7 linked regions of the Homo sapiens genome follow. The protein of the gene in region 1 interacts with the protein of each later gene in a pairwise test. Each region holds a gene or a part of one and is shown in the gene's direction. Other genes may lie near its edges. The genes, in order: EIF3C, DDX3X, PFDN1, TACC3, AAGAB, ALKBH4 and BTG3.

What was found.
Region 2: the proteins of EIF3C (region 1) and DDX3X interact in binary tests that used the Homo sapiens proteins (3 or more experiments, as listed by UniProt).
Region 3: the proteins of EIF3C (region 1) and PFDN1 interact in a two-hybrid assay, tested with the Homo sapiens proteins (one large-scale study listed by BioGRID and IntAct).
Region 4: the proteins of EIF3C (region 1) and TACC3 interact in a two-hybrid assay, tested with the Homo sapiens proteins (one large-scale study listed by BioGRID).
Region 5: the proteins of EIF3C (region 1) and AAGAB interact in a two-hybrid assay, tested with the Homo sapiens proteins (one large-scale study listed by BioGRID and IntAct).
Region 6: the proteins of EIF3C (region 1) and ALKBH4 interact in a two-hybrid assay, tested with the Homo sapiens proteins (one study listed by BioGRID and IntAct).
Region 7: the proteins of EIF3C (region 1) and BTG3 interact in a two-hybrid assay, tested with the Homo sapiens proteins (one large-scale study listed by BioGRID and IntAct).

Annotation. Positions count from the first base shown.
Region 1 is NC_000016.10:28,724,964-28,728,463, forward strand, and holds part of EIF3C (eukaryotic translation initiation factor 3 subunit C), read left to right. Parts: coding exon 1-49; intron 50-1,641; coding exon 1,642-1,832; intron 1,833-2,057; coding exon 2,058-2,282; intron 2,283-3,500. UniProt on the Homo sapiens protein: Component of the eukaryotic translation initiation factor 3 (eIF-3) complex, which is required for several steps in the initiation of protein synthesis.
Region 2 is NC_000023.11:41,347,468-41,350,774, forward strand, and holds the end of DDX3X (ATP-dependent RNA helicase DDX3X), read left to right. Parts: intron 1-172; coding exon 173-252; 3' UTR 253-2,807; downstream 2,808-3,307. UniProt on the Homo sapiens protein: Multifunctional ATP-dependent RNA helicase. The ATPase activity can be stimulated by various ribo-and deoxynucleic acids indicative for a relaxed substrate specificity.
Region 3 is NC_000005.10:140,296,602-140,300,101, reverse strand, and holds part of PFDN1 (prefoldin subunit 1), read left to right. Parts: intron 1-3,500. UniProt on the Homo sapiens protein: Binds specifically to cytosolic chaperonin (c-CPN) and transfers target proteins to it. Binds to nascent polypeptide chain and promotes folding in an environment in which there are many competing pathways for nonnative proteins.
Region 4 is NC_000004.12:1,728,021-1,731,520, forward strand, and holds part of TACC3 (transforming acidic coiled-coil-containing protein 3), read left to right. Parts: coding exon 1-767; intron 768-2,866; coding exon 2,867-2,942; intron 2,943-3,151; coding exon 3,152-3,281; intron 3,282-3,500. UniProt on the Homo sapiens protein: Plays a role in the microtubule-dependent coupling of the nucleus and the centrosome. Involved in the processes that regulate centrosome-mediated interkinetic nuclear migration (INM) of neural progenitors.
Region 5 is NC_000015.10:67,206,162-67,209,661, reverse strand, and holds part of AAGAB (alpha- and gamma-adaptin-binding protein p34), read left to right. Parts: intron 1-117; coding exon 118-200; intron 201-1,003; coding exon 1,004-1,100; intron 1,101-3,500. UniProt on the Homo sapiens protein: May be involved in endocytic recycling of growth factor receptors such as EGFR.
Region 6 is NC_000007.14:102,458,801-102,461,863, reverse strand, and holds part of ALKBH4 (alpha-ketoglutarate-dependent dioxygenase alkB homolog 4), read left to right. Parts: intron 1-2,062; coding exon 2,063-2,260; intron 2,261-3,063. UniProt on the Homo sapiens protein: Dioxygenase that mediates demethylation of actin monomethylated at 'Lys-84' (K84me1), thereby acting as a regulator of actomyosin-processes.
Region 7 is NC_000021.9:17,599,402-17,602,901, reverse strand, and holds part of BTG3 (protein BTG3), read left to right. Parts: intron 1-3,500. UniProt on the Homo sapiens protein: Overexpression impairs serum-induced cell cycle progression from the G0/G1 to S phase.

The DNA of each region.
Region 1 (3,500 bases):
GATGAAGAATTTACCAAAATAATGCAAAATACTGACCCTCACTCCCAAGGTGAGCCTGAGCAAGCGTGGGCTTTGCTGAGAGGAAAATTGTGGGGAATATTACTAGGTTTAGAGCTTTGTGAGGATTATACTAAGTCAGAGTGCTTGAAAAGCCAGCCTTTCAACTTACCTAGCGTTCACACGGAAGGGCCTGATGAGATGCTGGCTCCCAGTCCCATCGTTTCTGATTCCATAGGTCTGAGTGGGGCTTGAGAACCTGCACCTCTAGCCTGCTCCCAGGTTGCTGGTCTCAGGGCTATACTTTGAGAACCTTTGGGGTAAGGCATCTATTCACTTCTCTTGTTTAGCTTGGATGAGAGGCATTGGGGTGTGAAAGTGCAGCATAGTTTACTCAGTAAAAGTGTGAATGTGCCCATCAAGTCAAGGGTGTAGTGATTAACAAGGCAGCCAAAAGCTTACCTTTTGTGCTGGATGGAGAAAGGCAGATTGAAAAATAATAGTAGTAAGATATGGCCGGGCGTGGTGGCTCACGTCTGTAATTCCAGCTCTTTGGGAGGCCGAAGCAGGCGGATCCCGAGGTCAGGAGATTGAGACCATCCTGGCTAACACGGTGAAACCCCATCTCTACTAAAAATACACACACACACACAAAAAAAATTAGGCGTGGTGCTGGGCGCCTATAGTCCCAGCTACTTGGGAGGCTGAGGCAGGAGAATGGCATGAACCCAGGAGGCGGAACTTGCAGTGAGCCGAGATCACACCCCTGCACTCCAGCCTGGGCGACAGAGCAAGACTCCATCTCAAAAAAAAAAAAAAATAGTATGATGTTAAGATAATTCTGGGCCAGGTGCAGTGGCTCACGCCTGTAATCCTAGCACTTTGGGAGGCCGAGGTGTGTGAATCACCTGAGGTCAGGAGTTTGAGACCAGCCTGGCCAACGTGGCAAAACCCTGGCTCTACTCAAATACAAAAATTAGCCAGGCATGGTGGCAGGTGCCTGTAAATCCCAGCTATGTGGGAGGCTGAGGCAGGAGAATCCCTTGAGCCCAGCGGGCCAGAGGTTGCAATGAGCTGAGATCACACCACTGCACTCCAGCCTGGGCGAAAGAGTGAAACTCCATCTCAAAAAATAATAATAATAATTCTAGATGATATAAAGTTCAGAGTTAAACTAGGGCCCTGTGGTAAGAAGTGGCTGGAGGGGTGGCTGCTGTAGCTAACAGCTGGAGAAAGCACCCTTAAGTAGGGACCACCTGAGGTGAGATCCAATGAGGAGGAGTTAGGGGAAGAATCAGCTGAAGACAGCGCCTGACAGGAGGAGCAGAGAGCGAGCTTGATGTTCCAGGAGTAAAAAGGCCAGTGGGACTCCAGCACAGGAAGCCAGAGGGAGAATCGTGGGAGACCAGGCAAGGGCCAGGCCTGGCAGACCCTTATTGGCAGAGGTTGGCAGTTGGGATTTTTTTCCTAAGCTGTGGGACTGGAAGGTTCTGGGTCCTGGGAGTGGGAGATGGCCTTTCTGGGGCACACTGACTAGACTTTTCTGACGGGTGCAGAAGAGGGACGGGTTGATTGGAATGAGTGGGGACAGATGGGAAAGCCTGGCTGCCCAGCTGAGACAAGGGTGGGTGCTCTCCCTGCCAGAGTACGTGGAGCACTTGAAGGATGAGGCCCAGGTGTGTGCCATCATCGAGCGTGTGCAGCGCTACCTGGAGGAGAAGGGCACTACCGAGGAGGTCTGCCGCATCTACCTGCTGCGCATCCTGCACACCTACTACAAGTTTGATTACAAGGCCCATCAGCGACAGCTGACCCCGCCTGAGGGCTCCTCAAAGGTGAGCACGTGGCAGTCATGGCAGAGGGGAATGGGTGTGTCCACCTGTCCTCCACTTCTGTCAGGACTTGACAGCAAATCTGTTACTCTCTAGACTTCCGCAGGTGGAGCAGGGAGGGAAACTGAGGTATTAGAATGAGACTGGATAGAGTCTCATCTTTAGTTGCTAGAGCCTGTGCCTTTTAAAGCTGGATCTCCTTTGCAAATAACCTCCCTTCCTCCCCAGTCTGAGCAAGACCAGGCAGAAAATGAGGGCGAGGACTCGGCTGTGTTGATGGAGAGACTGTGCAAGTACATCTACGCCAAGGACCGCACAGACCGGATCCGCACATGTGCCATCCTCTGCCACATCTACCACCATGCTCTGCACTCGCGCTGGTACCAGGCCCGCGACCTCATGCTCATGAGCCACTTGCAGGACAACATTCAGCATGCAGACCCGCCAGTGCAGGTAGGATGGGGAGGCCTTGGAGGTGAAGGAGTGCCAGGCCCCTGGCCTCTTGGCAAACTGGCTTAACCAGAACAGCCACCTGTCTGGCCGGTGCAAATTTAAGTAGACACTTGGTCTTTCCCAGTTGCCAGCATCCTGCAGTCCTCCTGCATGTAAACACATAATTTCGTGTCAAAAAAAAAAATTATCCAGGCTTGGTAGTGCTTGAGCCCAAGAGGCAGAGGTTCCAGTGAGCCGAGGTTGTGCCACTGCACTCCAGCCTGGGTAATGGAGCAAGACTGTTCAAAAAAAAAAAAAAGCTGTGTCTGGAAGTGTAGATCATGTAAAAGTATATTTGAGGCAACTAGGAAATGTTTATGTGTAGAGCACCTGGTGAACCTGTCTGGGGGTACTGCTGGTTTTTAAACAGCCCTCCTATTTGTGTTTCTATTCTATGGTATGAACATATCACTGTGTCTGTTTTCCTCTTGGCGGACACCCAGTTTATTTCCAGTTTTTGGCTCTAATGTATGAAGCTGCTGTGAACATTCTTGTAAGAAACTCAAAAGTGGTTATACCATTTTACACTCCTGTTAGTGTTTGGGAGTTCCTTGTCAACTTTTGGTGGTGTTGGTCTTTTTTTGAGAGGGAGTCTCGCTCTGTCGCCAAGGCTGGAGTGCAGTGGTGCAATCTTGGCTTACTGCAACTGCCACCTCCCAGGATCAAGCGATTCTACCTCAGCCTCCCGAGTAGCTGGGATTACAGGTGCCCGCCACCACTTCCGACTAATTTTTGTAATTTAGTAGAGATAGGGTTTCACCATGTTGGCCAGGCTGGTCTCAAACTCCTGACCTCAAGTGATCTGCCTGCCTCAGCCTCCCAAAGTGCTGAGATTACAGGAGTGAGCCATCATGCCGGCGGTGGTATTGGTCTTTTAAACTTTTTTTTGTTTTTGTTTTTTGAGGCAGGGTCTTGCACTGTCACCTAGACTGAGTGTAGTGGCATGATCATGGCCCGCAGTAGCCTCAAATTCCCAGGTTCAAGTGATCCTCCCACCTCAGCCTCCATAGTAGCTGGGACTACAGGCATGTGCCACCATAGCTGGGACTACAGGCATGTGCCACCATGCCTGGCTAATTTTTTATTTTTTGTAGAGACAGGGTCTCACTATGTTGCCCAGGCTGGTCTCAAAGATCTTTTAGGGGTGTGTGTGTGTCTCTTTTAGGGGGTGTGTGTGTA
Region 2 (3,307 bases), on another chromosome or scaffold:
ACTTCATAGCTTTGGGAAGGGTTTTTTTCCTTTTAGTCATCTTTTTCAAAGCCTAATTAAACAATTTAAGTTCAGCACTATAGAAACTTGATGGCAAATTACGTAAGGGAAGGATTGTATTTAATGATGGATAACTTCATTAATTTCTCTCTCTTTTTAAATCTCTCATTAGGTGGCTATGGAGGCTTTTACAACAGTGATGGATATGGAGGAAATTATAACTCCCAGGGGGTTGACTGGTGGGGTAACTGAGCCTGCTTTGCAGTAGGTCACCCTGCCAAACAAGCTAATATGGAAACCACATGTAACTTAGCCAGACTATACCTTGTGTAGCTTCAAGAACTCGCAGTACATTACCAGCTGTGATTCTCCACTGAAATTTTTTTTTTAAGGGAGCTCAAGGTCACAAGAAGAAATGAAAGGAACAATCAGCAGCCCTGTTCAGAAGGTGGTTTGAAGACTTCATTGCTGTAGTTTGGATTAACTCCCCTCCCGCCTACCCCCATCCCAAACTGCATTTATAATTTTGTGACTGAGGATCATTTGTTTGTTAATGTACTGTGCCTTTAACTTTAGACAACTTTTTATTTTGATGTCCTGTTGGCTCAGTAATGCTCAAGATATCAATTGTTTTGACAAAATAAATTTACTGAACTTGGGCTAAAATCAAACCTTGGCACACAGGTGTGATACAACTTAACAGGAATCATCGATTCATCCATAAATAATATAAGGAAAAACTTATGCGGTAGCCTGCATTAGGGCTTTTTGATACTTGCAGATTGGGGGAAAACAACAAATGTCTTGAAGCATATTAATGGAATTAGTTTCTAATGTGGCAAACTGTATTAAGTTAAAGTTCTGATTTGCTCACTCTATCCTGGATAGGTATTTAGAACCTGATAGTCTTTAAGCCATTCCAGTCATGATGAGGTGATGTATGAATACATGCATACATTCAAAGCACTGTTTTCAAAGTTAATGCAAGTAAATACAGCAATTCCTCTTTCAACGTTTAGGCAGATCATTAATTATGAGCTAGCCAAATGTGGGCATACTATTACAGGGAAAGTTTAAAGGTCTGATAACTTGAAATAGGTTTTTAGGAGAATTCATCTACTTAGACTTTTTAAATGCCTGCCATAAATGAAATTGAAATGGTAGAATGGCTGACCACAGCAATGACCAGCCCTCATTAGGGCCCTGGATGATTTTTGGTCTAATAACGCATGCTAGTGTTGATGTTTTTTGGTCAAGAGGGTATGAACAGGAAGAATTAAATGCAGCAGGCTTTATTTTAAATGCCGATTCACATTACTCTGTTCAAGCTGCGTTGAGATGTTAAACTGGCTTACTATAGACTTCGTAAAAATGGCTCCAGAAGAGTAACAAACTGAAATCTTTGAGATCACACAGGTTGGAAATATGTACATAACTGCACAAGGTGTCAATTCTGCTCTACAGTGCAGTTTTAGTCAGTTTTAGTTGCATAGGTTTCCATTGTATTTATAGTCTGTTTATGCTAAATCTGGCCAAAGATGAGCATTGTCCACCACTAAAATGCCTCTGCCACTTTGAATTCTGTGCTAATTTTGTGGCCAGAATGCGGTGATCAAAACGCTCCATCTTTTTACAGTGGCATAGGAAGACGGCAAAAATTTCCTAAAGTGCAATAGATTTTCAAGTGTATTGTGCCTTGTTCTAAAACTTTTATTAAGTAGGTGCACTTGACAGTATTGAGGTCATTTGTTATGGTGCTATTTCAATTAGTCTAGGTTTAGGCCCTTGTACATTTTGCCCATAACTTTTTACAAAGTACTTCTTTTATTGCACATTCAGAGAATTTTATATATATGTCTTGTGTGCGTGTCCTTAAACTTCCAATCTTACTTTGTCTCTTGGAGATTGTTGAACGCAGCTTGTCTAGGAAGGGGATGGGACTAGATTCTAAAATTTATTTGGGACCATGGGAATGATAGTTGGGAAGAAAACTATTTGCACACGACAGATTTCTAGATACTTTTTGCTGCTAGTTTTATGTAATATTTATTGAACATTTTGACAAATATTTATTTTTGTAAGCCTAAAAGTGATTCTTTGAAAGTTTAAAGAAACTTGACCAAAAGACAGTACAAAAACACTGGCACTTGAATGTTGAATGTCACCGTATGCGTGAAATTATATATTTCGGGGTAGTGTGAGCTTTTAATGTTTAAGTCATATTAAACTCTTAAGTCAAATTAAGCAGACCCGGCGTTGGCAGTGTAGCCATAACTTTCTGATGTTAGTAAAAACAAAATTGGCGACTTGAAATTAAATCATGCCAAGGTTTTGATACACTTGTCTTAAGATATTAATGAAACACTTCAAAACACTGATGTGAAGTGTCCAGATTCTCAGATGTTTGTTGTGTGGATTTTGTTTAGTTGTGTGTTTTTTTTTTTTTTTCAGTGAATGTCTGGCACATTGCAATCCTCAAACATGTGGTTATCTTTGTTGTATTGGCATAATCAGTGACTTGTACATTCAGCAATAGCATTTGAGCAAGTTTTATCAGCAAGCAATATTTTCAGTTAATAAGGTTTCAAAAATCATGTAAGGATTTAAACTTGCTGAATGTAAAGATTGAACCTCAAGTCACTGTAGCTTTAGTAATTGCTTATTGTATTAGTTTAGATGCTAGCACTGCATGTGCTGTGCATATTCTGATTTTATTAAAATAAAAAGTTGAACTGCACAGTCTCCTTTGTTGTTGTCAATTGTGGTTTATTTTCAGAGGTGTAAATAAAGTGCTCTTGCCTGAAAAATTGTAAAATGTTATTTTTTGCTTGTCATCCAGTGCTATTTTTTGAGATGCCTCTTGGATACAGAATGACTCATACCATAAGTATTTGCAATGAAAGATGAAGATAGTATTAGTTTGAAATACAGTGAAACAGGATTTTTGTAATAGACGGAAATCTAAAAGGCCCTTACTGATAATACAGCATGTATTAGAAATTGGCTTATACTTTGAACAATTTGACATGGGTGGGAGTCTCTTTGTTCTTTGAAGTATCTATTATGAAGGATGGTTGAACAGTGGAAGAATGAGCAGGATAAAAGTCAAGTGTGTCAGTAGTCCAACAAGTGATGGTAAGTATATACTTAGGGAAGGAATCAAGACTATTTGGGCCAGGTGTGATGATTACATAGTCCTATAGTGCTAGTTTACTTGGAAGCTGAGGGGCAGGAAGATTGCTTGAGCCCACGAGTTCAAGTCCAGCCTGGGCAACGTATAGCAAGACCTTATCTCTGAAAACAGGTA
Region 3 (3,500 bases), on another chromosome or scaffold:
TGCCACTGCACTCCAGCCTGGGCAGCAGAGCTAGACTCTGTCTCAAAACAAAAGAAACTTTGGTTTAAAGTAAGTATCTTTTTCTTTTTGAGACGGAGTTTTCGCTATATCGCCCAGGCTGGAGTGCAATGGCCCGATCTTGGCTCACTGCAATCTCCGTCTCCTGGGTTCAAGCGATTCCCCTGCTTCAGCCTCCTGAGTGACTGGGATTACGGGCGCTTGCCACCACGCCCTGCTAATTTTTGTGTTTTTAGTAGAGACGGGGTTTTACCATATTTGCCAGGATGGTCTGGAACTCCTGACCTCCTGATCCGCCCACCTCAGCCTCCCAAAGTGCTGGATTACAGATATGAGTCACCACACCCGGCAGGTTAAAGTATCTTAGAAATAACTTTAAAGATTATCTAATTAAATGCTTTCTTTTTTTAAAATGAGGAGCTGAACTTCAGGTAGATTAATTAAAGTGTTTAAGTTTAGACTTTAAAGTACATTTTTTTTTTTTTTTTGAGACAGAGTCTCGCTCTGTTGCCAGGCTAGAGTGCAGTGGTGTGATTCTGGCTCACTGCAACCTCCGCCTCTTGGGTTCAAACAATTCTGCCTCAGCCTCCTGAGTAGCTGGGACTACAGGCGCATGCTACCATGCCCGGCTAATTTTTGTATTTTTAGTAGAAATGGGGTTTTACCGTGTTGGCCAGGATGGTCTCAATCTCTCCTCTTGATCCGCCCGCCTTGGCCTCCCACAGTGCTGGGATTACAGGCGTGAGCCACCGCCCCTGGCCTCAAAGTACATTTCTTAAGTGCTTACTTTCCTGTTCTGTCTATGATTAGGTACTTAAGTGTAAGTTCAGTAATAAAAATGATTTGTCATGGAAAATGTTTATAGCAATATTATATTGTATGTGAAGAAGATTTATTTAAGTAGGTGCAGTTTTAACCTCCTCTTCCCTGCTTAATTTATTAGGAGTGATACAAATCATAAATCTTTCAGATGTCTGATCAGTGTTGTAAAATAAAAATAAAAATTCAATTGTCATTTAAATACACTCATTCTGGCCAGGCATAGTGGCTCATGCCTGTAATCTCAGCACTGCAGGAGGCCAAGGTGGGTGGATCCCCTGAGGTTAGGGGTTTGAGACCAGCCTGGCCAACATGGTGAAACCCCATCTCTACTAAAAATACAAAAATTAGCGAGGCATGGTGGCGCACACCTGTAATCCCAGTTACGAGACTGAGGCAGGAGAACTGCTCGAACCCAGGAGGTGGAGGTTGCAGTGAGCCGAGATTGCGCCATTACACTCCAGCCTGGGCAACAAGAGTGAAACTCTGCCTCAAAAAAAAAAAAAGTAAAAAATACACTCATTCTAAGTGTCATGCATTGTTCTAATAGGAGGACAACTCACATGTGAGAAATCTAGTAAATTATTTTACTTTTGTTTGTTCTAATTAATACATTATTAACTTCGTACATTTCACTTTTTTTTCTTTTAAAAGCATATTGCCCTTGTGAGAGAGAATAGGTCTGCTTCATATTCTGTAAGCAGAAAAAAAGGAATGGAAAAGCCCTTAAGTACAGGTCACATTCCATTACAGTGAGCTAAAAGGAGAAGACTGATTTTTTTTTTTTTTAAGTTGGGGGGAGGTACAGGAGGAGGGTTTTTCTGGAATTTGGTCTTTGAGTATTACTTAGTAAGTAGACCATTACTTCAGATTTGGAGATCTTTTAGTTAGAATGGAATTTGACCTCAGTCTCGGGATGACTTGTTTTGTGATTGATTTGAAGAAAGAATAACATGTGTAAAATTTAATAATGACTTTGGAATGACATCATGAGAAGTAGACCTGCTCATCACTGACTAATCCATATCTTTATGGTTCAGAATTAGATTATGTTAAATTGTTCATCTGATTTGCTTTCTCAGAATGAATAATGTAGCACAAGTAAATTTTATGTCCAAGCTCATATATTTCATTTTAGTTTAAGAGGATAAGGATCCCAATTTGAGAGTTTGTTACTGGGACACAAAAGAATTGGAACAAAGTAGAACCCTTGAATATGTGTCTGTGTAGTATGAAATGCATTGTTGGCATTCACTACAGGATAATTTTATCCTTAATGTGAATATCCTTAGGTCTTAAAACAGTAATGCCAGCTTTATTAACATGTTGTACTTGGATTTCACATCACTGCGCTAGCCTTTGTTTGCAATAGCTAAAGAATTCCTTTTTCAAAATAGAAAAAACGTTTTACTCCCTTTGGGCTTTTGAGCTACAGTGAAGTTTTAATTTTTAATTAGAATAGTTTCATTTATTAAACGTTCTGCAGAAGTGTTAGGAGAGTTGTTTTTTGTACATATTTTCCAAAGTGCTACAGATAAGTTGTTTTCCATACCAAGAATTTTGGAGTTTAAAGGCTAGGATATGAATTAATAAATAGTAGAATGGTATTATTTCCAGAAGGTTTATTTCATATAAATTACGTTTCTTAAAAGAAGTGTGGAGTTTTAAATGTTTGGATAAAGTTGAGCTTCTACATGATTTCAGACTTCTGTTTTAAATTTGACTTTAGTGCTGTCTGCATCTCACCGGGAGTATGAGTTTGACCCTGTATTGTAGGGGCATGTAAGGTGAATAGCGTTTGTTGTTTGGCTAGCGTATTAGTGCCCTGAGAGGAAGAAAAGACTTGCTGAGTATTAGTCTGGTCATGAGGATGTTCTCTTTCTTGATGCTAAACCTGAGATATCTATTTCTGAATTTATAGTCGAGTAATTTTGGGTATCATTGTGATTCACTTCTTTAATTCTAGTCTTTACCTTACTTTGTTTTTTCTTTTCCATTTTGAGTGTTATTTGGGAATTCTGACTAGAATATTACTTTTTCCCAAATTTTCATTTTAAAACCGTAATAAAATGGTTATAATAAAATCCAAAACTTCATTTTTCTTTTAGAACATGCAGTAGATTTTCCCATTGCTGAAATTCAGGTCTCATTGCTTCTTGCCTGGACTTTTATGATAGCATCTTAACTGTTCTTTCTTCCTGCCTTCATTCTGTCTGTCCAAATCCATTCTTCACATATCTTTCAGAATTAATCACATCAATATTCTTCCTAAAGTCCTTTGTTCATCCTCTGTTGTCCACAGGATAAAATCTAAACTTGTTGGCCTTGCATTCATGGTTATTCATAATCTGTTCTTAATTTACCCTTTGCCTCAAGTCCCACCACTTTCTTTTTCCAGGGTTAGGATAGCATGTATATTTCATCTCATGGACCTACCTCCTTCTACTAGTTTGTGTTATATGTTGAGAAGAATTTTGAGATGTCAAATGGGTTTTAAACATGCTTTAATTGATTAGTGATGTCTGTTACACAGTGAGGGTAGAAGAGTAGTAGCACATGTACTAGAAATTGTTATCCTACCCTTGCCACATAGGTTTCCTCACACATGTTATGTTTTTGTGCTTTTTTGCTTTTGCTCAGTCTTTGGCGAATAACATTGTCCT
Region 4 (3,500 bases), on another chromosome or scaffold:
AGGACAGAGTCCCAGCACAAAGCGGAGACTCCGCACGGAGCCGAGGAAGAATGCAAAGCGGAGACTCCGCACGGAGCCGAGGAGGAATGCCGGCACGGTGGGGTCTGTGCTCCCGCAGCAGTGGCCACTTCGCCTCCTGGTGCAATCCCTAAGGAAGCCTGCGGAGGAGCACCCCTGCAGGGTCTGCCTGGCGAAGCCCTGGGCTGCCCTGCGGGTGTGGGCACCCCCGTGCCAGCAGATGGCACTCAGACCCTTACCTGTGCACACACCTCTGCTCCTGAGAGCACAGCCCCAACCAACCACCTGGTGGCTGGCAGGGCCATGACCCTGAGTCCTCAGGAAGAAGTGGCTGCAGGCCAAATGGCCAGCTCCTCGAGGAGCGGACCTGTAAAACTAGAATTTGATGTATCTGATGGCGCCACCAGCAAAAGGGCACCCCCACCAAGGAGACTGGGAGAGAGGTCCGGCCTCAAGCCTCCCTTGAGGAAAGCAGCAGTGAGGCAGCAAAAGGCCCCGCAGGAGGTGGAGGAGGACGACGGTAGGAGCGGAGCAGGAGAGGACCCCCCCATGCCAGCTTCTCGGGGCTCTTACCACCTCGACTGGGACAAAATGGATGACCCAAACTTCATCCCGTTCGGAGGTGACACCAAGTCTGGTTGCAGTGAGGCCCAGCCCCCAGAAAGCCCTGAGACCAGGCTGGGCCAGCCAGCGGCTGAACAGTTGCATGCTGGGCCTGCCACGGAGGAGCCAGGTCCCTGTCTGAGCCAGTAAGTGTGAGGATGGGATGGGGAGCGTGGCGTGGGGCAGCTGCCCTGCAGTGTATGTGGTCCAGGACCCGAGGCCAGAAGTGTCATCAGATACTCCTTTGAGGCCGGGTAGGTTCTGCCTGAGGAGGGGCCTCTGGATAAAAACAGGGCTCAGGTGGCTCCCAGCTGAGGGTGCTTGGCCTTGCCTTGGCTGCCATGCATCTCTTTAGTGCTCCTGGCCTAAGGAGGGATCCAATAAGGGCGGGCTCAGGCCAGAAGCCAAATGCAACCAACCCTGGGCAGGACCCTGTCCCCCAGTCATGTTCCTCCTCAGGTGAACTTGACTTGGGTGTGTAACTCCAAAAGCCAGGCAAAGCCTGTTACTGCCTGGGTGGCGTCCGCTGCTTGCTGGGGTCTTGGCCGTGGGTCTGCTGCCTCCTGGCTGAATGGTCTTAGGCTACATCTCCTAGAGTTGCTCAGTGGGAGATTGTCCTGCCTGTAGGGTCCAGCCCTACTGGGTCTGTGGGTTTTTTCTCCTCGTGTGCATAGACAAGAGATTGTACAAATAAAGACACAAGAAAAAGACAGAAGAAAAGACAGCTGGGCCCGGGGGACCACTACCACCAAGGCACGGAGATCGGTAATGGCCCCGAATGTCTGGCTGCGCTGTTACTTATTGGATACAAGGCAAGGGGACAGGTTAAGGAGTGTGAGCCATCTCCAATGATAGGTCAGGTCACGCAAGTCACGTGTCCACTGGGCCCTTCCCTGTTTGGCAGCCAAGGCGGAGAGAGAGGACAGCTGACGCCATTATTTTTTCTATGTATTTCAAAGACTTTAGCACTTTGACTAATTCTGCTACTGCTATCTAGAAGACAGAGCCAGGTGTACAGAGCGGATCATGAAAGTGGACCAGGAGCGTGACTGCTGAAGCACAGCATCACAGGGACACAGGCCTCTGGATGGCTGCGGGCGGGCCTGACTGATTCCACAAGAGATGGTGGAGCAGAGTCTTCTCTAACTCCCCCAGGGAAAGGGAGACTCCCTTTCCCAGTCTAATTAACGGGTGCCTTCCCAGGCACTGGTGCTACCGCTAGACCAAGCTAGGTAACGGGTGCCTTCCCAAGTGCTGGTGTTACCGCTAGACCAGGGAGCCCTCCAGTGGCCCTGTCCGGGCGTGACAGAGGGCTCACACACCTCTTCCGGTCACTTTCTCACCGTGTGCCTTCACCTCCTATCTCTATATGGCCTGGTTTTTCCTAGGGTTATTTGTTTGTTTGTTTGTTTTTTGAGACAGAGTCTCGCTCTGTCACCCAGGCTGGAGCGCAGTGGCGTGATCTCGCCTCACTGCGAGTTCTGCCTCCCGGGTTCACACCATTCTCCTGCCTCAGCCTCCCGAGTAGCTGGGACTGCAGGCACCCGCCACCATGCCCGGCTAATTTTTTTGTATTTTTTAGTAGAGACGGGGTTTCACCGTGTTAGCCAGGATGGTCTAGATATGACCTCGTGATCCGACCGCCTCGGCCTCCCAAAGTGCTGGGATTACATGCGTGAGCCACCGCACCCGGCGTTTCCTAGGTTATTATTGTAGAACAAAGATTATTATAATATTAGAATAAAGAGTAAAGCTACAAACTAATGATTAACGATATTCATATATAATCATATCTATAATCTATTTCTAGTATAACTATTCTTATTCTGTATATTTATGATACTGGAACAGCTTGTGCCCTTGGTGTCTTGCCTTGGCCCCTGGGTGGCTTGCTGCCCACACCTGCCCCAGCCTCCACATTTGAAGCCTTTTGTCAGTTTCACAGTAAAAGGGATGTACTCATCCTTGTGATTCCCTTTGGCTGCATCGTGCTGACTTTAGAGCTCCCAGCCTGCTTCTCCCAGAGCTGGCAGGCAAGGCGCGTGTTTTCCTGCTGGGTGAGGTTGGTGAGGCAGTTTTGTGGCCAGGTCGCTTGGGACAGCCCCATGCCTGGCACGCTCTAGCTGAATGTTCACGTGGCCGGCACAGCAGTGCAGGGAAAGGCGATGGCAGCTCAGTGCTGGAGCAGGGGACGCCGGGGTTATGGGGTGGGGGGCATGGGCCTCTGCTGACTCTGTCTCCCCAGGCAGCTGCATTCAGCCTCAGCGGAGGACACGCCTGTGGTGCAGTTGGCAGCCGAGACCCCAACAGCAGAGAGCAAGGTAAGGGGTGCTTGTGTGGGTACCTGTGCTCCTGGCCTGGTCGTGTAGAAGAGTAGCAGGCAGTGGAAGCCCCCAGCAGCCTTGGGTGACGGGGTGGGATGTCCCGCTCCCTCTCCCCCAAGTCTACTTCAACAAGGTTGTGGGGAGGCAAAGCCACACCCCAAGTACCTTGACTGCACTGCACAGGGTGACTCTGCCCTTTCCTCCAGGAGAGAGCCTTGAACTCTGCCAGCACCTCGCTTCCCACAAGCTGTCCAGGCAGTGAGCCAGTGCCCACCCATCAGCAGGGGCAGCCTGCCTTGGAGCTGAAAGAGGAGAGCTTCAGAGACCCCGCTGAGGGTACGTTGCCTGGCACAGACGTCACACACAGTCTGCCCGGAGGGGATCCCGTGAGCACTTGGGCAGCTCGAGACACCTGCATCATCGGCAGGTGGTCATTTCGCAGGCAGTTGGGTCCCTTGACTTTGAATGACTCATGCACAAACTTGTGGTTTGTCAAAACTTAGTCAGTGTTAGGAGAGCAGGGCTCATACCTTTAACATAAAAGACTTCTAGAAA
Region 5 (3,500 bases), on another chromosome or scaffold:
TATATATGTAGTTAGAACTTTGGTAACAAATAAGTAGCCTTTGTTTCATCATCATAGCCATTTGAACAGTTTAAAATGTAAATGACAAATTTCACTAAGTGTATTTTTCCTTTTCAGATAGGAACCAAGGCTTTAGCCTTCTCAACTCATTGACTGGAACAAACCATAGCATTGGGTCAGCAGATCCCTGTCACCCAGAGGTAAAGGTTTTTCTTGGATCTTTTTTCCCTCTTTGGCTTTAATTTCTCCTTGTCATTATGAATCTTGACACATTCACCATTGTTTTCCTTTCCATTTAAAAGGTGACAGAGAATGTTAAAAATAGATGAAAGGAAGGTCTAAAACAGCCCTTGCTAAAGCAGTAAGCCCTTTCAAGATGTTTACAGCTTTGGTTTTATTTTTACTAGGGTGCTTTCTAAAATATGCTAGGATTTCCCTGAGGCATTAATTTGCCTTCAGATCTTTAAATAGAAAATAAAATTCATGGTGCTTTTTTAGTACTTCCTGTGTAAAAGACCTTGGCAAATCTGAGGCAAGGTCCCTGTCCTCAATGAGCTTGTAGTCCAGTTTCAACCCTGCATCCTTAAGAACTTTGTTCCAGGTTTACCTTGGTCAGCAGCTGGAGCCAAGAGCAAATTATACAGTGCCACATTGTCTTTCCAGGGATCTTTTTCAACAGCCTCTGAGCTATTTGTGTTACGATTGTGTTACATTTTCACATTTTGAATATAACATGGATCTTAAATGAGACAAACAAAAAACATGTTTTAGTAGTCTAAAGCAAAATCAACGCTTTCTAGTTCTTCCTTGGGGGAAAGTACTTCTGGGTTAGTTAAGTTTTAGCCTTTTATTTTTTTAATGTGATCTTGCTCTTCTTTCTTTGCCTCCAGTTCCTATTACTCTTTTCTCAAGCCAACCAAGGACTGAAAGTGTGAGCTTTTTTGGATTTAGTTCTGAAATAGACTACGATTAAATTGTTGCTTATGTGTATTTTCCTCAACAGCAACCCCATTTGCCAGCAGCAGATAGTACTGAATCCCTCTCTGATCATCGGGGTGGTGCATCTAACACAACAGATGCCCAGGTTGATAGCATTGTGGGTAAGTTCCTCCTTTGGCTGCCAAGAGAGAGCTTTGTGCAACTTGGAATAGGTATCTGGGCAGAAATTGTTGAGGGGGAAATTGACTTTAAACACAGAGAAGGGAAAAAAATTGGTAGTATACCACACATGAATGTGAGCCTTGCCAGTGGCTATCAGAAAAAGGAAGAAGAATAAATATATAACAAATATGTGGGTACCATTTTCTCTTTAATTCTCCTAGCAGGATCTTGATTCAGATAATCTTAGCCAAGGCAGACCGAACCAGGTGGCGAAACAGCTAGCTCTGTATCACGTAGTTTTTTCATAATATTTAACAGAAGTCAGAATCGATGGTGACAAGAATAATACAACTTTATATTTATAAGCCCTTCCATATGCTTTTAAAGTTATTTTATATCCCCTTTCTCATTTGGTAATGAAGTTTTGCAGAGAAGTTTAATAACTTGTCCAAGGACATCTAGCAAGAAGGGCCTGGAGCTGAAGCTGGAATCCAGTATGCTGTCCAAAAGCCAGAAAACCAAGGAGCTTACTTGACAATAACTATAAATCTTCTTTCGCTGGGGAACTACTGATATTCCTACTTTATCTTTATGCTACAGACGGCTCATGTGCAGTAATAAATTTTTAAAACTCTTTTTTCTTATGAGATAATTCATGTAGAAAACTCAAGTGATTGGTTATAGAAACATATGAAGAAGAAGAAAAAATTATGTATAATTTTTTTTCTTTCCAGTTTATTCATCCTTAGCCTCTCAATTGAATCCTTCCCATTGGCTTTTAAACCTGCCAGAGTCTCTGCCATTAAAACAAACTAGTAATCACACTGAAGTGGGTGGGGACTTGAAGCACTAACCTAAGTAACTTTAGAAAACAGTAATTGGACTAGATACCGTAAGGCTAAAAACAAAAATAACTGAACACAGATACTGAACTCTACTTAGTAAATTTGTTTCTTATAGGAGCATGGCTCAGCAATTCTGAAATTTTATATATAGATATTTTATACACCACACATATACTGACATATAGAAAATAAAAAATATAGATAGTGAGAGTTAGGTTTCTCACTGCCAGAGGAAAAAGGTTACAAATAAGGAAAAGGGAAGGCCAAGATGTACCCTTTGGTACTGGATTGGAATCTAATGTATCAGTATGAACTCATGGCTTTAAAAATATACTTACAGTTAAGAAAATAAATACAGATGTGTGTGTATATGCGTGTATTAGTATACACACATATATTTCCTAGTTCTGTCCACTGAGAGGCCTAGAAGCAACAATACCACCATAGCAGTGGACACACTTAGCACTCAGATCTTGCTTTCTTTTTGTGTGTGTGTGTTGTTGTGTTTTTGTTTTTGTTTTTGTTTGAGATGGAGTTTCGCTCTTGTTGCCCAGGGTGGAGTGCAGTGGCACGATCTCGGCTCACCGCAATCTCGCTTCCTGGGTTCAAGCGATTCTCCTGCCTCAGCCTCCTGAGTGGCTGGGATTACAGGCATGTGCCACCACGCCCAGCTAATTTTGTTTTGTGTTGTTTTTTAGTAGAGACGGGGTTTCTGCGTGTTGGTCAGGCTGGTCTCAAACTCCCGACCTCAGGTGATCCACCTGCCTCGACCTCCCAAAGTGCTTGGATTACAGGCGTGAGCCACTGCGCCTGGCCAGATCTTGCTTTCTAAATACCATTCTCCAATAAAAGGAACTAGGGCTCCTTGGAGAAGTGGTTGATTCCAGGACTTGGGCAAGAAAAATACAGGATGACCCTGGAGCATCTCTTGGTACCAGAAATTAAGAAAATTCTCAAAAAAGAATGGGGACATGTTGAAAGGGCATAGGGACCAACCTGAAAGAGCTTCCAGTGGCTAAATCTGGAACAATTTGACCAGCAAAGTAGATTAATATAGTATTGGGTTATAACCCATAGAGTAAGCTAAGTATCCATGAGTTCATACTAATATAAATAAATAATTGAATAAACAAATGAGAAAGAAAGGACAGCATCTCCTTCCAGAAGAATCCCAAGTAATAAATATAGAAGGAATGAGGAAAATAGAAAGCCATCATTAGGCACAAAACACAGTAATAGTTCTTGGTAGCATAGGTGAAAGTTTGAGGAGAAGTAGTATATCTGCATAGTCTAAAAGTATCTCTCTCAAGATGTTTATTTATTACAAAGGGGAAAATAGTAACTTTACACTGGAGAAACTCATCAGATGCCAGCCACTTTAATTATGTAATGAAGGTTAACATCACTGGTAATAAGACATATTGACATAATAGCCCTCCTGATAGGATGCAGTGAGAAGGTAATCTCACCAAAAATGCATAACTGCAATCTAATAATAAGAAAACAATCTGACAAACCCAATTAAGGGACATTATACAAAATAACTGACATACA
Region 6 (3,063 bases), on another chromosome or scaffold:
GCTGAGTTCTGGTGGCCTCCGAAGTCCTCACTGGGTGACTCCGGCCAGAACCTCCACACCTCCTGCCCATGATAGTTATGGTACCTTCCTCTTGGGGCTGTCCTGGGGATGAAACTAGATAATCCATGTAAAATGTTCAGTGCCACAGATGCAAATACTGGCTATTTCATTGGCGAAACTCTTTTTTAAAAATTTACTATTGGCTGGGCATGGTGGTTCACGCCTGTAATCCCAGCACTTTGGGAGGCCAAGGCGGGAGGATCACAAGGTCAGGAGTTCAAGACCATCCTGGTCAACATGGTGAAACCTCGTCTCTACTAAAATACAAGAAAAAAATTAGCTGGGCATGGTGGCGCGCACCTGTAGTCCCAGCTACTCGGGAGGTTGAGGCAGGAGAATCGCTTGAACCCAGGAGGTAGAGGTTGCAGTGAGCCGAGATCGTGCCACTGCACTCCAGTTCTGGTGACAGAGCGAGACTCCATCTCAAACAAACAAACAAACAAACAAAAAGTATTATTATTATTTTCAAGATGGGGTCTCACTGTGTCACCCAGGCTGGTGTCCACTAGCACGATCTTGGCTCACTGCAATCTCCACCTCCCGGGTTCAAGGGATTCTCCTGCCTCAGCCACCTGAGTAGCTGGGATTACAGGCATGCACCACGACGCCCGGCTAGTTTTTGTATTTTTAATAGAGACGGGGTTTTGCCATGTTGGCCAGGCTGGTCTTGAACTCCTGACCCCAGGTGATCAGTCCACCTTGGCCTCCCAAAGTGTTGGGATTACAGGTGTGAGCCACCGTGCCTGGCCTGGTTTCTAGACTTTCTTTAGCATGGGGGAACCCTTAGAGTACCGCCAGGCCTCGGGGTTGGTGGCAGAGCAGAGAGGGACATGGGGTGGGAGTTGAGTGACAGCCCAGGGTATGAGGATTGAGGGGTGATGCTGGGTCTGGAAAGGTGCCCTGAGGACAAGAGTGAGGAGAAGGGAGGTTGGGACACTGAGGAGCTCAACTGAACGCTCAGCTCTGTAGGGAAGTTGGCTGCCCTCCTAGGTGACCCTCACGCTGGTGATAGGCACGGGCCAACCCCTGGGACACCGGGGTGGCATCAGCAAAGACCTAAAGAGATTAGGGTGCACAGATTCAAGGTAGTCAGGCAGTTTGGGGCCTCCTGGAAGCAGCTGAGGAGATGGGAGTGCAGGAGGTGCTGTCCAGCCTCGGGCTGGTTCCTTAACTTTGCTGAGCCTCCTTTGTAAAATGGAGAAGGAAAAACATGTTGTACAAACCCTTCTCTTTTACAGGGGAGGAAAGTGAGAAAGGAAACCAATCAAATTCGTGTTAGCTCAAGAGGGCTGCGGGCCTTCCCCGGTCAGCCTGGGGCAGAGGCTCTGCCTGCACCTCCCCCTAGACTCCAGCTGCCTTCCACAGTGTCCTGAGGGGAGGAATGAGCCATCAGAGGGTCTCCTGAGGGCACACAAGTGCCAGGGGCTGCCATGGCTCCAGGATGTGTCTTTCCTTTTTTTTTTTTCTTTTTTTTTTTTTGAGACAGGGTCTTGCTTTGTTGTCCAGGCTGGAGTGCAGTAGCGCGACCATGGCTCACTGTAGCCTCAACCTCCTGGGCTCAAATGATCCTCCCGCCTCAGCCTCCTGAGTAGCTGAAATGACAAGTGCGCTCTGCCACACCCGGCTAATTTTTATTTAAACTTTTTTTTTTTTTTTGAGTCTCACTCTGTCGCCCAGGCTGGAGTGCAGTGGTGCCATCTTGGCTCACTGCAACCTCTGCCTTCTGGGTTTAAGCAATTCTCCAGCTTCAGCCTCCTGAGTAGCTGGGATTACAGGCACCTGCCACCATGCCTGGCTAATTTTTGTATTTTTAGTAGAGATGGGGTTTCACCATGTTGGCCAGGCTGGTCTTGAACTCCTGACCTCAGGTGATCCACCCACCTCGGCCTCCCAAAGTGCTGGAATTACAGGCGTGAGCCACCGCACCTGGCCTGTTTTAACTTTTCGTAGGGACCGGGTCTCGCTGTGTTGCCCAGCCTGTGGACTTGTGTTTCTTTTGCAGAAAACATACCGTTTCATTTACTGCTCCGACACCGGCTGGGCCGTGGGCACAGAGGAGTCTGACTTTGAGGGCTGGGCCTTCCCCTTCCCAGGAGTGATGCTGATCGAGGACTTTGTGACCCGGGAGGAAGAAGCCGAGTTGGTGCGGCTCATGGACCGTGACCCCTGGAAGCTCTCCCAGTCTGGACGGAGGAAGCAGGTAGACCGGCCCTGAGCTCATGGGGGTTGCTGGGCTGCGCTGAGGAGACAGCCCTACTGCTGGGGGCCATCCCCCTCCTTGCAGCCACACCCCTCAAACCTCCAGGGTTGGTAGTGGGCGAGTTCCCCAGACCTTGGGGCTGTGGGCAGCCAGACTCGCTGCAGGACGTGTGTCCGATGGGCAGAGGTGCACCTGGGCACCCCATCTCCCTGTGATATGCGCTCCTGGGCTCTCTGCCCCTCTGTAGCTGGCTTGGTGGTGGTGAAGGCACCCCATTCTCCCAAGCTGCAGGCGCCCCCACCTCCCATTGTCACCATCCGTGTCCTGTCTCCTCACACGCATTCCCACCTTCCCCCTCCCCGGGCCCGCCGCTCCCTCCAACTCCTTCCCCACCTGTGTCCAAACATCCCCGGGTGCCCCCTCTCCCTTCATTGTAGGTTTTTTTTTTTTTTTTTTTTGAGACAGAGTCTCGCTCTGCCACCCAGGCTGGAGTACAGTGGCATGACCTGAACTCACTGCAACCTCTGCTTCCCGGGTTCAAGCCATTCTTCTGGCTCAGCCTCCCAAGTAGCTGGGACTACAGGTGCCCACCACCATGCCCAGCTAATTCTTGTACTGTTAGTGGAGACGGGGTTTCACCATGTTGACCAGGCTGGTCTCGAACTCCTGACAAGTGATCCGCCCGCCTCAGCCTCCCAAAGTGCTGGGATTACAGGCGTGAGCCACCGCGCCCAGCCCCATTCTTTTGTGACATCCTGTTGGATGTTGGTACATTTCATTTCCTCATTCATCTGTCGATGGAC
Region 7 (3,500 bases), on another chromosome or scaffold:
TTATGTCCAAGGATGTTTAACAAGTTACATAATTATATAAACATTTTGGACCTATGTATTTAAAATGCTTAAAATAAGTCTCAGTACCTGAACATAAAAACTTTAGTTATACGGACATTCTACTTCAGTAGACATTTCATTACTTGATGATGCCTGGTAGGAAAAAACTGCTACTTTGCTTTCATCTTATTAATCTTAGAAAACCTTTTCATTCAGTAGGCTTCTAATTTATATGTAAATTTGCCAAAAATTGGCTCTGATGTGATTTTTTTCACAGCTAATAGAAATCACCTGCGAGTGTCAGGTGTTCATTCAATAACAGAACCCCAAAAAGAAAGACGTATTAATCGTTTAGTAGAGGTGGTTGATATAAGTTAACAGAAGAAAAAGACATTGAGAAATATTTTTTCACCAAAACTGGAAACATAGATATTTTGAAAATTAAAGCTGATCTAGCAAGTATACAATTGATCAAATATCTGAGAATCTTTAAAAATAATAACTCATTGGTATACTAGAGACTAAGATTGTAAAAAAAAATTGAGATGCACTGAGAACATTCTTCATAGTCTTCACTTACTCTGATAGAATAAAATGCTGCAAGAGTACAAAGAGTGCCATATAGTTAGAAAGGTTATCACTTCGTGATACAGAATAGAAAATAAATCTTGCCTATGATGAGAAGTTCTGAGAACAGATGCCAGCTTATCTACTCAACATATTTTACAACTTTTTTTTTTTTTGGTGATTTCTGCCATCCTTTTTTTCCCCCAATAGAGTGTTAAATACTATTGATTGTTTCTAAATAACTAAATTAGCCTTGATGTTTTATCAGTGATCATTGAAAAATGGAAAGTTTAAAAGTTGTCCAGGTGTCTACTAATTCTCCTAAGATATCGACTGCACATTGTAATGTTATAGTAGTATAGTCAGCAGCTTCTCTTACCATGAAGAGAGAGCCTTCATACCAAAATAGTACAAAGGGAAAAATGCAGAACCAAACTAGGTGTCAAAGAAATCTGAGTTAATAATGCTGATCCTTCAATCATTAGATATTTGCCCTTGGTTGAGGTTTCTGTTTACAAAGGCAGGAATTTTTCTCAAATTTCTTGCCTTTCCATTTTTGAATTTTGATTCCATTAATGGGCAAAACTGAAGATAGGCCTAAGTCATTGTTATATTAGTGTCATTAACACATGAATTAACCCTTGATTGTCTTGAAATTTGTTGAGTCTTCCAACTGTGGAGGGGACATGGAGTAAATGTGTATTGCTAAAACCTTATGCTAAGTAAACTTGAAATTAGAGAACACAAATTTTATGTTGTGAGGAACTCAATTGTTTAGGAATTTATTTTTTGTTTGTTTTGTTTTGTTTTAGAGAGAGGGTCTTGCTGTGTTGTCCAGGCTGGAATGCGGTGGCATGATCATAGCTCACTATAATTGTGAACTCCTGGGCTCAAGCAATCTTCCTGCCTTGACCTTCCAAAGTACTAGAATTATAGATGTAAGCTACCATGTCCAGCTTCTGTTTAGGTATTTTATACTACGAAGAGTCACCAGCCGTAGATCAACCACTATCTAGCCAGCTCCAGCTTCCTCGTCCAGCATATAGGAAACTAAGGCCTAGGGAAATTAAGTGACTTGCCTCTGGTGACCAAGCTAGTCAGTGGCAGAGCCAGAATGAGAAACTAGTCTAATGCCCTTTCTACCATCCCGTAGCAACTTTTTTTTTTTTTTTGAGACGGAGTCTCACTCTGTCGCCCAGGCTGGAGTGCAGTGGTGCGATCTCAGCTCACTGCAACCTCTGCCTCCCAGGTTCAAGCAATTCTCCTGCCTCAGCCTCCCGAGTAGCTGGGATTACAGGCGCACACCACCATGCCCGGCTAATTTTTTGTATTTTTAGTAGAGACAGGGTTTCACCATGTTGGCCAGGCTGGCCTCGAACGCCTGACCTCATGATCCACCCGCCTTGGCCTCCCAAAGTGCTGGGATTACAGGCATGAGCCACCGCGCCCAGCCCCTGTAGCAACTTTTATGAGGTAAACTAAAAAAGAATACAAAAGCGAAGTTATGTACTATATTTAAGTAGTATTTATAGTTTCATTTGGCCTATAGGAATGGAAGACAGCATAGCTATCTGAAGAAATAGAACTCATCTATGTGTGATCTCTGAGACTGCTAGATTTCCACATACATTTTCTTTTCTGTTTTTTTAATTTTTTGTTCTTGTTTTTTTGTTTTTTTGAGAGACAGGGTCTCACCATGTTACCCAGACTGGTCTCAAATTCCTGGGCTCAAGCAGTCTGCCCACCTAGGCCTCCTGAAGTGCTGGAATTACAGGTGTAAGCCACTGCACCCAGCCTCATGTACATTTTCAAAGGCTTTATAGCAGTTAAGCCTTTTACTTTATAATAGATAACCATTCTGATTCAGAAATAATTTGAGACGAGTGCTATCTTGAAATGAATTAACTTCAGCTAACTATTGAATCAAAAGCTTGACATTATTTCTACTTAGAGTTACTTATTTTTATCTTTTTTCAAACTTAGAATCACTTTAATTACATTTCTAACTGTATGTGTTTTGTAAGAACCGCTTAACAATATCCTTTGTCCTGATGCTAGAAATTGTTTGATAGTGTTGACACTGTGCAATCTATTTAAATAGATTTGTGGATTTCTCCTATGTCCACTGAATAAAAACTCTTGGTTTTACTTGAGTTTATTACACTATTTTCCTACAGTTCAGAATTTTTTTTTAAGTAACCAGCAGCATATGTTACATATTTTGACAACTTAAAAAAAATCAAAAATCTTCAAAAATGTTTTGGAAGAATAACAAGATTTTTTCATCTTACCTTAAAAAAAATTAAGATGAGAGGTGAGTAGTTATCCTAGGAAACTCTGAAGTAAGCAATATAATTTAAGCAAAACCTCTATATTCTTCAACAACTATCTTTTTTCTTTAATCTCAATAACTGCCTCAGTTCTCATTTTTGTGAGTATAAATAACAGGCCCCCTTTTTTATTTAATTGGGGTTAAAGTCAATTTTATAGGAAATTTCTAGTTGATCTGTGACTTGAATTACTAGCATATATGTTACATTTATAAGTACAGCTGGGGCTGGGCGTGATGGCTCACGCCTATAAACCCAGCACTTTGGGAGGCCGAGGCGGGTGGATCACCTGAGGTCAGGAGTTCAAGACCAGCCTGGCCAGCATGGTGAAACCTCATCTCTACTAAAAATACAAAAATTAGCTGGGCGTGGTGGTGGGCACCTGTAATCCCAGCTACTTAGGAGGCTGAGGCAGGAGAATCACTTGAACACCTGGGAGGTGGAGATTGTAGTGGGCCGAGATTGCACCCATTGCACTCCAGCCTGGGCAACAGAGTGAGACTCCGTCTCAAAAAAAAAAAAAAAAAAATCAGCCAGTGGCGCATGCCTGTAATTCTAGCACTTTGGGTAGCTGAAGTGGGTGGATCTCTTGAGCCTAGGAGT